4 linked regions of the Homo sapiens genome follow. The protein of the gene in region 3 interacts with the protein of the main gene of each other region in a pairwise test. Each region holds a gene or a part of one and is shown on either strand. Other genes may lie near its edges.

Region 1 (4,146 bases), on a different chromosome or scaffold from region 3:
GGAGCCCTTTCTCCCTGCTTCCTGTCCCCATCACTGGGTAAAGGTGCTGGCCCATTACCTTAAGGATCCGTGAGATGTCACAGGGCCGCATTCCACTGACTGCTAGCCGCACAATCTGCTGCCGGGTATCCAGAGGCAGGGGCCGGCCATTCACAAAGAGCCCCCCAAGCTGGTTCATGCTGCTGATCCCTGGGCGTGAGACAGAGGTATCCACACACCACCTCTCCCACTGCCCTGCCCGCCTGTGGAGAGGGTCACTCAGGCCCCTCCAGCCTGGCTTCCCACCACCGAGTGCATCCTCTCCTGGGAGACTGCATCCTTGCTGCCCCCAGGCTGTCAACGCAAGCTGCTTTCTTTGAGAGCTGGCTCACGGGTGAGTCTTTGTTCCTTGCCCATACCCGCCAACTCTCCTGATCTAAGGGAAGCAGGACAGGGCAGGAAGGGAGGGACTGGAAAAAGCTTCCCCAGAACATTGGCCAATAGCAGATGAAACAGTTGATGGAAGCAAAGCCCTGAGGTCTTCCCCTGTCTCTGTTGTCCTCCCTGTCTTCCCACTTCCCCCAGGCTCCTCACCGTCCTGATGCATGCTCCAGGCTGACCCTCCTCAGAAGGATGAGACTCCAGCTGGGAAGGCTGGGAAGGGAAGTTCCTTCTAGGAGCTCCTTTTCCAGCTTGGGGGCTGGCTCTGCAATAATGGGGGGTTATTTGGGTGAGGTCTTTTGCTTGAAATGGTCCTGGGAGGTAGTGTTTTGTGATAGAGGGTCAGGTTCCTAAAATTTGCCAGTGGGTTGGCTAAAATCAGAAAATTCTAATTCCTTTTATTTAAACCTTTGTGTGATAAAAACTAAAACACTGCAGGTTGGCTGAGGACTGGATCTTTCTTGAAGTCCTGATAAGGGGCTGGGAGGATTGAGAGGGTTCTCCTTTCCTACACATTCATTAGAAAAGTTTGGGGAGGTAGAAAGGGATAATGCTTTCAAATGCTCAAGCTTTCCCCTTTCCAAATGGACAGCTGTTGTCTCCAGCTGCTCCTAAGCCTTCTCAGCCCTGGAAGACACACCCGAGCCAGAGATTCTGGGGTCCTCAAGTTCAGGGGTCCACCTTCACTATTAGGCAGTCCTCGGTTGGGCTCTCCAAACTGCCACCCAAATGCTGCACTTCAGAAAGGCTTGCTCCTGTTTTTTTATACTCTCCAGGAAGCTCTAGGGAAACTGGGACTCAGCTCTAACCCACCAGGCATTGAGGCTCTGGTCCTACACACTGGGCATAGAGATGAACACGCCTGAAGAGCCGGCTTCTCCTAGGAGACGCATCTCTTAGCATCTCTAACCTGCTGAGATTGTTCATTCTGTTCATTCTCTGAAGAGTTCTAGATCTCACAGTGAAGCTTCAATTTCAGAGACGATGTTTCTGGTATCAGACACTCATTCATTCAACTAACATTTATCAAAGGCATATTGAAGGGAATGAGAAGCAGGAGAAGACTGTCCGCTGAGCAACATAGAAACCGTCATGAGCCCAAGCGAGTCTCTGAGCAGCAAGGGACACAGGTCCCACAGGCCACCATACCTCTTCTACTTTCATTAGTAATCAATGGGAGTTGAAGATGCCTCCTTTCATGCCTGGAACCCTGGTAGTGCTGGAGATCACCCCAAGGAACAGCTTATGCACAGAACTTTCTTATAATAAGCGTGCCATCTGGGCTTAGTTAATTCATCTGCAGTTGTATGCTGAATAAGATATTAAGCATGAGCACATTGCTGGTTGTTCAGGATGAAGGCAGTAAACAGAAAAGGGTAAAGTCTTTGCTCTCCAACACATTACAGAGCAACTGGAGAAAAGAGACTAGCACCAGTGAAACAAAGAATTACAAAGAGTTTGGAATCCAGAGTCTACTTATTAAGTTCAGTCGCTAAATTGGCTTTTACTCACTTGTTTCTAGGTAGGTAGAGGCACAGACCCCTTCAAATTCTCATCTTTCCAAAAAGTCGGGAAAGAAGGCAGAGGTTTTCCAAAGAGAAAACTGAGGCACAGATTGGCATTGCCACAAGTCAGGGGCTGTCCAGAGAGTAAAATTCAAGGTTTAGAAGCCAGTTCCTCATCAGAAGCTACAATTTCTGGCTCCTAATCCTGGGCTCTCTTTCTCTGCTCCCACCCCTGTTTCATGTTTGTGTAATTGCCACAAAAACAATGGAGAGAGGAGAATCAAGCAGGGACTGTAAAGGGCTGTGCCAAGACAGGGTGAAGGAGCTCAAAATATCAGCCAAACCCTAAATCCTTGATGGGACTCAGTTCTCCTAAGTGACCAGAATTCAAAAGAGCAGTAGGGATGCAGGTTCAGTATCCAAACCTAAATAATCTCCAAACCTAAATCATTATGCCCCAACTCACAAACAGAAACCCCATTCCCAATAGCCACAACACACATTCCCAACATTCATATTAACATGTCTGAAAAAATAACTGGTGCTTGCAAGATGGAAAAACAGGAAAGGGGGTGGAAGGGGCAGGAGGGTTGTAGCTGCAAAGGCAGAGTGGGAGAGAAGTTGGGTTTGGCCACACAGAGGCATGGAGACAGCATGAGAGGCAGGGCAGACAATGAGCCTGCAGGTGAGCTACCTGTGTGGAGGAAATGAGGTGGGAGCTTCAGTGGGAGGTCTCAGCTTCTGAGACCCCTGCAGGCTCCAGGGGTGGTGATGATCTGGTCTTGGTAACAGCCTCCACTCTGCTCCTGCTTCAGTCCTGCCAGGGGGTCCAGAGCTATAGAGAGCCCGTGCTCAAGAGCAGAGGGCAGCCTTCTGGGAGTAGCCAGTGATGTCACAGGCCATGAGCAGAGGAGAGAGGAGGAGGGAGGTGTGCATGGGCTGACTGACACCAGCCCTGAGGCAGGGCAAACCACAGCCAATGACCCACTGTGTCCTTCCATGGGGAATCCTCAGAGCCCACTTTGTGTCCACCTACCACCCGGAAGCAGGGACAGAGCCATTCTCAGACAGGCAAAAGTGTACCCACACAAGCACCAGTACTCCTGAAGGGCATGCTGAGCATGGAAGATGGGGAACTTCAGGTTGTGTTCTTAAGGCTTTGAATACACAGAAGCAAAAAGATGCCTTCCCGAACCACCAACACAGCTTCCCAGCCAGAATGCACATACATGGGCTTTGGGGTCAACTCCTGAGTCGTGTGTGTTGCTATAAAAGATAAATGAGTATACAGACTGTTGCCTAAATACTGACTGAGTTGGCTCCTAGCACTCTGAGATAATGAGAGTGAATGGAGAAGAGTGTGAAGAGTGTGTGTCACCTAGCACCAGCTGTCCCCAGAGAGTGTCCTAACCAATTCTCCAATTGACTCCTTGACTGAGGTGACACCAAGGGTGAATTCTTGCCTGGAAATGGAAGGATCCTGGACTTCAGAACACTGACAATGGTAGTGGTGGTGGAAATGAGCCTCAGGATAGTCAGAGATGCATGTGGGTGTTTATAAGGAGGCTTGCAGCAGGATTTTCCTTCTTCCATCTTTAGATGTTAGCAGGCTCCATTCTGTTAGGGATTTGATGCTTTTAGACTCTAAGTTAGTAATGGCACTGCTGTTTCCACAAAAGACACCACAGGTTATCTGGGTCATTGGCGAGGTCAGAGGTATCAGTAGCTGGGCAGGTGGTGCCTGTGGAGTGGGATGCTGAAAGTGAAACACAGCCTCTAGTGCATGTAAATTTTGTTGCCAGTCATCAGGGTCTTGGGCAGATGGTCTTTGGGTCCATTCCACACCTCAGAGTCTGTGAAACCATTGCAAAAGTTAGACTGGAAGTAAGCAGGGTGTAGGGCAATAAGACTAGTCCCAGAAATCAGAGAATGGAAGACGTATGTCATTGGTAAATGTTTTGAGGTTTTGGGGGTGAAAGTGGTTGTTGTGCATTCAGCTTGATCCTAGGGTTGGGAACTCTTGCTCTCAAAGGCCAAATATCACATAAGTGAGTTTTCCACTTTACCCTGATACATACTCTCTTCCTCTTCCACCCTCCTCCAGCATCCTCAGACTGGTCTTGGGGTACAGGGGAGACTGCAGAGGGTGATTTCAGGACCTCGGGCAGGATAGCATTTGCCCAAGTGTCCTTACAGCCCATTCCATCCCCGGGGCAGCTGG
Region 2 (3,500 bases), on a different chromosome or scaffold from region 3:
CTATGAGGGATGCCCCTCTTTGTGAGAAATTATTAAGCAGACCTCCCATCCCACTTCCCTCTCCAAATTTGGGAATGAACCTTTGAGCCCAAGGCCTCTTCTTGCTCGGAGTAGAGAAGTTAGAAGGCTCTGAACCAAGGGCATACTTTGCAGGGTTTGCAAAAAGGTTACTGTGGACAAACTAGCAGAAGAGTTTTGTTTGGCTTGCTTAATGATTGAAACGTTAAGAAATTCCATCATCATCGTCACCCCAGACTTCTGAATTCACTGGAAAAGACCAATGACTTGGTAATTGAACATGGGCTCCCACATGGTGGGAACTGGTGACTCTCTTTGTAAGGATATGTCCTCACCAGCTCAACCCTCCACTTCCTGTTCCCTGTCTGGCCCCTGAAAGCTTGTAAGTTTGAAGCCTCTGTATTAGCCTGTCCAAATGCCTTAAAAATCTTACTATTTAAGGTAAGAAATGACCCCACAAGTAGTGAGGCCAGGCTGTGCCTTTAAAGATGGCAGCAGTGGTTCACAGAAGGGACTTGCTTGGAGTCACAGGTTGGTCAGACACAGAACCTGGACTAGGGTCCAGATGTCCACCACCCAGGCTGGCACTCTTTCCTCTGCCCTGACCTGTCTGTCTCTGGTTAAACTGTAGGCTACTATGACACGTGTTTTTCCTCTTTGTCTGATTCAGGGCCTCACATAGAAACTGGCACATGGAATGAATGAGTGACTGAAAGAATGATGTATGAGAAGGCTGTAATTAGCTCTCATTTCAATTAAGGTCAAGCAACATTTACTGAGTACTTGCCATGTGCCAAGTTCTGAGCAAGGCTTGAATGCCCAGTCCCCTGCTAAGGGGATCCAGGTACTCCCACAGCACATAGGCTCCAGGGAAAGAGATCCCACATCAGGGGCCAAGAAGGAGTTGAGGATATCAGCCACTCTCTCTGGGAAGCCAGCACTGCCTTTTGATTCCTTTGCTGCAAGTTACTTGCCTAGATCAGTTATCACCTCCGAGAATAGGTAATAATAGCAGAGAATCCTCAAGTCCTGAGCCACCTACCACCACCCCCTTCCCAAGCCTTCCCAACACCTGGCTCCCTGCACAGGGACATTAGAGCCTTTCCCTGGCCAAAGGAGCTGGAGGTAGTCCTTCACCTGGAGACTGCCAGACACCGGGAAAGCTCATTCTAAGTCAACTTCTATACTAAAGGTCTCCAATGTGGTGGTGTCTCCAATGGGGTGAAGCTCGGGGCAGGTGGACACAAGAGAAAAAAACCAAGCCATTTTAATATTTATAATCTTTAAAAGAAATCAAATTTTTAATATACAGGTTGATAGGAATAATAGCATGTTATTAGATTTAGGCAATTTATTCAACATTACTATGTCTAAGGTTCAAAGAGCTTTATATCTATTCACTCATTTAATCCTCTCCAATGAAAAAGGTATGATTATTATCCTCATTTTGCAGATGTGGAAACTGAGGCACAGAAGGTTAAATAGATTTCCCAGGTCACACAACTAGTGGGTGGTGAAACTGGGCTACAACCCAGCCAGTCTGGTTCTGAAGTATCACCTCTGTGGAACATGTATGTAACTTGGGAACAAAAAAACATATATTGGAGGTATTAAGTTTTTTTTTTTTTTTTTTTTTTTTAACCTGTTATGAGTTCATGATCTAAATAATTTGGAGACTCTTTCTTCAGGTCTTTATCCTAGTGGGCTCACCAGGGAAGTCACCACAGCTATATGTGTCCTTATTCTACATATCTGGCCATCTCTAGCCCTTCACATCTGTTCTCTGTTACAGCTGTTCTGGATGCATTCTCTGCAATATGAGTCACCTCAAAACAAAAGGTGTTTCTAGGGCTTTGCTTTCCTTTGATCATACATCTTACTTGTTCTGGTAATAATTAGAATTTTAATGAGAAGGGGAGTAGGGGGAATCTAGAGAGCATAGAGTGCATTTAAATGTTCAGCCTGACAAATAATTGAATTCGTAAATGAAAAGAGAGGTAGGAGAAGGGGGTGGGGCAGGACAATGAGGTTTTCCTTGGTGTGGTTGCTATTTAGATTGCCTCTCCATGTGACCCCCAGCTGCTGTTCCCTCAGAGCTGTGATTAGGGGAGGCAGAGGGCATGGTTTTTTGGAATCAGCACCCAGCACTCAATACTGGTTATATGAGACCAGGAGGCCCGTCCTATGCCTGAAGAATCTTATTGCAGGACTAGAGGAGCCTGGGCTTTTGACATCTCACTGGCAGGCAGTGCAAGGAGAATTAGGTCTCAAACACTGAGTGGGTTTGTCTTCACAGGAGATGCAAGGTTGGTGAGCAAGGCTAGTAAGACCAGAAGCAGGCAGCAGGGAGGAGGTGACTGTAGAAGATTCAGCTCATTTAAAATCACTGTATGTGGCCTTGAACTCAGACATCCCTCATCTCCTAGTTTAAGTTACATTGAGATTAGAAAGGGCTGTAGGCTTCTGTACAGCCTAAGGGCTGCATAAAGGCCCAGATAACCTAAGCTGTATGCCTTCCCACTCTGGGCTTGCTGGGGCCAACCCACTGGGACATGTCCCCTAGGAAATCACAGGTGCACAAATAGCCTTCAAAACCCTTTTCCCATTCACATCTTGTTTGAACTTTGACCCCTTGAGGCAGCTAGAACTTTGATGGGCAACTCTGCCAGTTTCTGAGTCCTGATCCAGTGCTCTTCCAATTTACACCACACGTTCACTTCAGGAAAAGCTAGAAGTAAGCCTCCAGTAAGGGAGAGAGGGCTCAGCCCAGCACTGAAAAAGAGAAAGTACCTCCTAGGTATTTGGATGCTTCTTCCCTGTCTTCTTCTTTACTTCTTCTTCAGCTTAGAGAGAAGGAAGCATTGCCCTGAAGTCAGACTGGCCTCACTAACAGTCTACCTCTACTAGTTTTAAACTGTGACCTTGGCAAACTATGTAACACTTCTCAGCCTCAGTTTCCTCATCTATAAATTGGGGGTAATAATAGTATCTACCTTTAGGGTCATTGTGAGGTTTAAATGAGACCAAAACTGTTGAGGATAGTGCCTAAGATGTAATAAGCAATATAATAAATATCACCTATTTTTATTAGAATTAGTTATGCCCAGCCCAATTTGAAACAGTCCTTAGTTTTGAAATTTGTTTAATGGGCAGAACACCTGAAAACCATTGAACATTAATCAACAGAGATAGCTTTAACCTTGTCTTTACAAACCAAGAACAATCTTACTAGCAGAAATAATATAATGGTTTTGGACATAGCCAGGTCCGTCTGTATCTTGAGACGTAACACAAACTATGGTTCAGATCACACATCTCCAGGCTTTTCCTGCTAATACTCATTTGCTTGCTGCCTCCTCAGTTGTTTTGTTGTTACCATCACCAGCCAGCTGGTGAACAGGAATGAATTCCAAAGAAGTAAGAAGAAGATCATGGAAGAAAAACCTATAATTGAGAACATCCTATGTTCTTGAAAAATTTCT
Region 3 (3,500 bases):
TTTTATCACCTCAAGGTGATAATTTGATGTTGATTTACACCATAGTTTATCAGTTCTGTCCATCTTATCACTAATCTGTTTTGTCATTTGGGCCTTATCAGTTTGTTTACTTATCTTTGTAAATATGCCCACCTGGGATATGGAAGATGTAGGATGGAGGAAGGAAAAGTATGACCATTTTTTTTTTTAATTACATAGAAAATCTGATAAATAATACTGATTATTCCCTATGTATGAAGATGTTTTCTGGGAACAATAAATAAAAATATTGTTTTAGAGCTAAAAGAATCCTTAGTTGAGGAAGCTGAGGCTCAGAGGAGTTAAGGGACTTATTTTGGATCTCAGAGCAGTTTAGTGAGCCTGTGTCAGACTACAGCTCTCCTCATTCCCATTCCAGTGCTCTTGCTGCTCCCCTCATTGGTGGTCCACATGGAAGTACCTGGTGCGATACAAAGGCAAAGAAATACTTTAGTTAAGAATATTTACAGCCTGTAATCCCAGCACGTTGGGAGGCCAAGGTGGGTGGATCACAAGGTCAGGAGATCGAGACCATCCTGGCTAACATGGTGAACCCCATCTCTACTTAAAAAAATACAAAAAATTAGCCAAGCGTGGTGGCAGGCACCTGTAGTCCCAGCTATTTGGGAGGCTGAGGCAGGAGAATGGCGTGAACCCGGGAGGCAGAGCTTGCAGTGAGCCGAGATCGCGCCACTGCACTCCAGCCTGGGCGACAGAGCGAGACTCCATCTCAAAAAAAAAAAAAAGAATATTTACAAAGCAAACCATGTGGGACATTCATAACAGTGGCAGTGGAGGAAGGATGAACAGGCATAGATCACTGTGGGGGCTGGGAATGAGTGTGGCATGGACAGGACTCAGGAGCTGTACCACATTTCTCAGTGGTGGAGTGCTGAAAGCAGCCGGGTTAAGATTATCTTTGAGTCTGCGTATTTGTACTTAACGATTGGTCTACTGAGGAGTATCTTATACAACTTCTTGCAAGGCATCTTGGTTGTGACCACTGATGTCAAGATTACATGTTAGAAGAATGCAGCTAGATTTGGTAGAATAAACAGAAATTTATAACCTTGTTATTAAATTAACAGTGTCAACCAGTAACCATTACTAGCGTTTTAATTAGAGATACTTCTGTTATCCTTTTATGTGCATGCCACATTTAGACGGATGTCTTTGTGTGTGAAGACAGTCGTTGTTGTTATTTGTATAACACTTGTAATAGATATAAATATTATTTCATCCTACATGTGTACCTTGCTTTCAGCACTGCAGGTTGCATTTGGTTCACTGTATCGAGATGATGTCTTGATAAAGCCCAGTCGAGTTGTTGCCATTTTGGCAGCAGCTTGTTTGCTGCAGTTGGTAAGTATGCACGTTATTCGAAGAAAGGTTCAGAATAATAATCTTTGTCTCAAAGTGTGTACTCCAAAAACAAAAATAAAGCTTAGCTTTTTTGGAGTTTTTAAATAAAAATGAAATGTATAAATATGACATTTATTATAAATCATTTAAAATGCCTAACCAAAAGCAATTTATTACAACCGAGGGAGTCATGATGTCTGCATAAAATGAATGCAGGCCATTTCTGTGTAGATATCTTAGTATGACTATAATGTGGAAAAAACGTACTTGTCTAAGGTCATTTACAGATTTCATTAATGACTTGACTATTAAGCAGATGGCTTATGATTACCAATTAATTTCATTCATGGGTTCAAATAAACATGCATGCCTACTATTTAAATTTCTCTTAATTTTGAAAGAATTGTGTATAAATCACATATATGTATTTTAATCTACTGGCAGAATGACAGATTTGTTCATTGAAGAGAAGTGTGTTGAGCACTGTGTCAAACTAGACACAGAAAGCCAAAGGTAACTTAAGACGTAATCCTTACTTTCAAAAAGTTCACAACATAGTATGTATGTGTGGAGAGGGGAGGGAGGGTTGATATACAAACCCAAAGGTAAAGTAAGAGCTGTTCAATATTATAGGTATGATAATAAACATCCTGTAGCATTTAGTGAATGGATAAAGAAGGGAGTGGTCAGTTCATCCTGGTGGTGTCACATACGAAAGTTACATTTTCACACAGAGTCTTGAAAGTGTGTTTGTATTGCAAAGTAAGAAGAGGGGAAGGAAGAGCATTTCAGACAGAGAGAACAGAGTAAACTAAGATCTAGTGATGTGAAATAATGGAGGATTCAAGACTCTAACAGAAACATGGCTCCCACATAAACATAAGAAGGATTGCAGAAGAGGGGGGCAGAAGCCAGATCATGAAAATACATCTATACATTGCTAAGAAGTTTAGCATACACAGTACCTTTGGAATATTTTAATCAGGGGAAAGACGAAGTTATGTTTTAGAAAGAATACTTCAGTAACAATGTGACAGATGAATTGAAGGAAAGATGAGTACAGCATTAGAGACAAAAACTTGTTGCATTCGTCCAAGGGAGGAAAGTAGGGTAGTAGCAATAAGCTTGGAGGGGAAAAAGTGGATACCAGAGAGATTCAGGGATAATCCACTGGACTTGGTGATAGACTAAATGTTAAGAGGAAAGGGGAGGAGTCTAGAATGATTTCCAGGTAAGTTTAAAATCCTAATGGAGTCAATGTTTTATTTTAATCTTAAAAAATTGTTTACTTTTATGTGGTATTTTTGTACTGATTTATTTGAAGTATTAATAGCTTGCTAAATATCCTTGGTTGAGATCATTTGATTTTCAAAATGTTTTGATCCTTTCAATACTTACTTCCAATAAGTATACTTTATTATCTAACTCTGGTCCTTTTGGTTTTGTTCTAAATTCACCTTCTGCTTACTTTTATGATTTACTAACTCTTTAACTTAATATACCTGCATGATGAATGTATTTCAGAAATTTGAATGAAAAGTAGTATTCTTCCCATATATTAAAGTTAGTTCACTTAAAACCTATATAAACATTTTAGGTTAAAACTTTAATGTTAATCATTTGAAATAATAATATACTTGTTTTAAGTCTATCTCTTAGATATTGTAGTTATTTTAAACTTGATCACTTTCTGCTAATGCATACTGTTAGTTTAGTCCCATCACATGGTTAACTGACTATGTAGACTTCTTAATTTAAAAAGAAATGGCAAAACAGACAAAATGCTGCTAAAGAAATTTGCAAAGGTCTCAGACAGGGGAAGAATAGAAAAGAAAAAGAATAGCAGTATTCATTCTCTACCTTACTACTCCCCCCCACCTTCCATTTTCAAATTCCAAGTATTTAGTTGAATACTTGCTGAACTTTTTTCAGTATTTTTATTGGACTTGTTAAAAAAAAAAAAAAAAACTTAGGTTTGCTGCACTTAATGAGTTTTCTTTCTTTTCTTTCTTCTTTTTTTTTTTCTTTTACTTTTTAATATGTAAAAGCTGTCAGAGCTAATTTTTCCCACGTGAAATGGGCCTTTCCAGTGCTTATTTATATTTACAGGACGGTTTAAT
Region 4 (3,500 bases), on a different chromosome or scaffold from region 3:
TGACTGTGACCTTGAACTCTTGGCCTCAAGCAACCTCCCACCTCAGTCTCCCAAAGCTCTGGGATTACAGGAGTGAGCCACTTCGCCCAGGAACAATAATATTTCTTTCTCTATTTTCTTTTTCAGGAACTGGCAGGAAAAAAAATTTTTAATTAAAGTATAAACAAAAGCAAAAAAAAACTGAACTTTAAAAAATACATTTCCCTTTAAAATGAACAATATCCTGCCCTGAATTTCAATGTCTTATTTCCTGTAGATAAATCGGAAAAGAGCTCACAAGGGGGAAAGAAAGCAGAATGGGCCATGCTAGAGAGGCAGACAGACAGGCATCTCCTCATCCCTCCCATTACGGATGTGTGACATCATCTATTATAAAGCTACATTCTTCATGGAGAAAGGAAAAGTACTGATACTAAGTCCTATCAACTCTGGCTTTTGAGAAACAGCAGACTTCACAAGAGAACTAGGACTCTCCAGACAGGAATGTTTCAATGATCACTGAAAACGCCAACAACAGAGGAGTGGGCAGGCAGTGGTGAGGCAGCACAGAAGTAATGTGCAGACAGGGTGTTAAACACAAGAAACTTACACAGCTACAACCCAACGATGTGTGTCTCTAAAAGCGTGTATTTATTAAGCAGTACCTTCTGACATGTCCCCTGCTTTTGGGATCACCACTACCCCGCTGAATTCCAAAGAACCAAGAACTCTTTCCAATGGCTGACAGAAAACAAAGCTGGGAGGCTCTGCTCCATCATCCAGGACTGTTAATGCTCACACTTCTTTACTCAGAACATTCCAAACACTTCTGTACTAACTCACACTCTCAATGATCCGTGTATGAACTACACGAACACATAGGTCCTGGGACTTCTGCGGCTGCTGGTCAGAAGAAGGCAGCGACTGTACACAGGTGTGACCTTGATTCATATTAGGTGAGAGATTTTTAAAATTGTTTAAAGTTGTTTTTAAAGATAACTGTGTCCATTTATAGTCTCTGGCACACAGAGTTAAATGAATCACTAAGGGACACTTGGAAGGAATGGGGGGAACTTCTGATTACTCTTCTCCATAACCAGACGATTCTAACTGGTCACAGGAACCCAACTATTACAATGAATAAATCTTGTTAGAAGAATCTAGAATTCTTACAGTGAGAGATTTTAGAAAACATCTACTCCAATTTTGTTATTCAGAGAATTTAGCAAATTCGTCCAGGTCACAATTAGTTCACGGCAGAGCTAGGACCAGAAGCTGAAGCACCCCTGTCACCCTATGAGGCCAGCATACCTCTCTTGCTCTGCCTGTAAGGATCAGCGCCTCTCCCTCCCATTATAACCCTGCTCCAGGGCTTCAGATGGGGAGACTCATCCGCTTGCCCTCTTCCTCACAGCAGCAAAGTTCCACAGTCAACAACGTCTCTTACTTTGTTTGAGGAGTAATGACTATGCATGTTAGGTACCATTTTTGCTCACTTTCACTTGCTTCCTGACAATACAAGTACCCATTGCTTGTATACTCACAAGCAGCTCGAACGAACATGTCACTGCTTCCAGTTTTATCTCCAAACCAAGAGTAAAGCCTGACTCATTTCTCTCACTCAATAAACATACCTGGGATGCACATACCTGGCTAGTCACAGATATGCCCCAGCTATTTATGCAACAAATTTAAACAAATCTTACTTTCGTTCATGAGGCGTCTCTGTGCTCACTGAGTGATACCTCATAAGTTTCCTTTGCGAAACCCCCGGGGACCCCCGGGCAGGTTGTGGAGGTTCCTGGCATTCGATGGGGAAGTGACTCAGGGTGTTTGCTCGCCTCCTGAAGGCCTGCTGGGGCGACAGCGGAGCTGGCTCTTCTGGGAGATGACTCTCCGAGTCACTGGACAGGTCCTCCGAGGAGCCGAGGAGCTTAAAGGAGCTCTCAGAGATGGGCAAGGCCTCCTTTTCACACACAGATGGCTCCTGGGAGCAAACACACAGCAGATCAGACACACCATGGGGAATATGTGGGATTTATAAATCTCTAGTTCCTGCACGGGCAAACATTGCAGTATCTAAGTATGTGTTCTGATTATAATGCCATCTAGAAGCCACCACCAAAAGCAGAAGAAAATGAAGGTCCATTAAATAAATGCCCGCTCCTCAAGGACACACTGCTGGCTTGCTGGAGAAATGGGGAGACTGGCCAAGTGCAGGAGTGAAGGACATAAGCCACAATCTGTAACGTTCTGAACAACGCCATGAATAGTGCCCTCTCTCTAGAAAACAGGACTGTTTACTGCAGCTTCTAAGGGGTGTGAGTGCTGGAGAACTTGTCTCCACTGCTTAACCAAGTTCTTTATCTTTGCCACATGTGTTCACTCATGTTAAACCCACATTTTAAGGCTCTCTCCGAATCTGATCTACTGTTGAGATTCGACTTCATAATTTGAGATTAAGAACTGTATCAATATTCTTAGAATATGGAAAATCACTCTGTAGGCACTTACTGCTGCAATTCAGGGCAAATAATTTCTTTCTGCACCTCAATTTCTTCTGTAAGAGGGTAAAGTAAAAATGTATCTGAGTTTCAAGAACAAAGCAAGATGATACAACCAAAAGTACTTTTTATGTTGTAAAATGTTACACAAACATAAGTTATTGTTTTATTAGGTATGCAATAAATCTATGGAGTGAGTGCTCAAACATTTGTTGAGAATCATGACAATATTTTAAAGTTGTATGCCTTCACGATGCACGCTTTTTCAAAGGAATGAACTACTACCACTCAAGCAAACTGATGTTTAACACTGCACCCAGGACGTGGCTAGTGGCCAATATATTTTTAATATATTCAAAATATTCAAAAAGAGGAATTGTAGCAGCTTGCTCCTATTGAAATTGTTGGAAGAGAAAAAATAAATCAACAGGAATAGAGTAAACAAGAATGAATGCATCTAACAGTGGACTGGAGACTGAATTCTACCTGTTCATTTACACAGTTGAGTGCCTTTTAGGTAACAAGTATTGAGGGTTTTAATTTGAAAAAAAAAAAAAAAGAAATGTGTTTACCAAAGGGAGAAGTTACATACATTTAATTGTATAAGAATTAGGAAAAAATTCCCAACATACTATGAAATATTGATTACTTTCATAACTGAAGTTTTTCATTCTTCAGGACTCAACAGTTGTGAAGATTCTTTTAAGGATTTAAAAGTCTCTCTAAGACAATACATCACAGAACACAATCTCCATCATGCAAACCTGTTGATCTAAATTCTTACTAATATCCCTCCAAATCATATCAAAGAGCTAACCCTTAGCTTAATTGGACAACTGAAAGGGCCATTTTCATTTGTCAAGTTTCAGGGCTATTTGGTTTCTTTGCAACTCCTAGGTGATCAATTTTTTAGAAGGGATCCAATTACATAAAATAGAATATAGTAGTTTCTCAATTCAAGATGAATAAAAGAAAGATGTAAAGTACACTTAAACATATACAATACATACAAGCAGC

Evidence for each region. Proteins that work in one complex are often made in the same cells at the same time.
Region 1: the proteins of GMCL1 (region 3) and PAX4 interact in a two-hybrid assay, tested with the Homo sapiens proteins (3 studies listed by BioGRID).
Region 2: the proteins of GMCL1 (region 3) and SYT6 interact in binary tests that used the Homo sapiens proteins (3 or more experiments, as listed by UniProt).
Region 4: the proteins of GMCL1 (region 3) and TBC1D1 interact in binary tests that used the Homo sapiens proteins (3 or more experiments, as listed by UniProt).

Annotation. Positions count from the first base shown.
Region 1 is NC_000007.14:127,615,343-127,619,488, forward strand, and holds the start of PAX4 (paired box protein Pax-4), read right to left. Parts: upstream 2,801-4,146; 5' UTR 2,620-2,800; intron 2,059-2,619; 5' UTR 1,933-2,058; intron 686-1,932; 5' UTR 587-685; coding exon 574-586; intron 190-573; coding exon 59-189; intron 1-58.
Region 2 is NC_000001.11:114,143,870-114,147,369, forward strand, and holds part of SYT6 (synaptotagmin-6), read right to left. Parts: intron 1-3,500.
Region 3 is NC_000002.12:69,839,660-69,843,159, forward strand, and holds part of GMCL1 (germ cell-less protein-like 1), read left to right. Parts: intron 1-1,282; coding exon 1,283-1,380; intron 1,381-1,823; exon of another isoform or gene 1,824-1,893; intron 1,894-3,428; exon of another isoform or gene 3,429-3,456; coding exon of another isoform or gene 3,457-3,489; coding exon 3,490-3,500. UniProt on the Homo sapiens protein: Possible function in spermatogenesis. Enhances the degradation of MDM2 and increases the amount of p53 probably by modulating the nucleocytoplasmic transport.
Region 4 is NC_000004.12:38,048,084-38,051,583, reverse strand, and holds part of TBC1D1 (TBC1 domain family member 1), read right to left. Parts: intron 1,967-3,500; coding exon 1,686-1,966; intron 1-1,685. UniProt on the Homo sapiens protein: May act as a GTPase-activating protein for Rab family protein(s). May play a role in the cell cycle and differentiation of various tissues.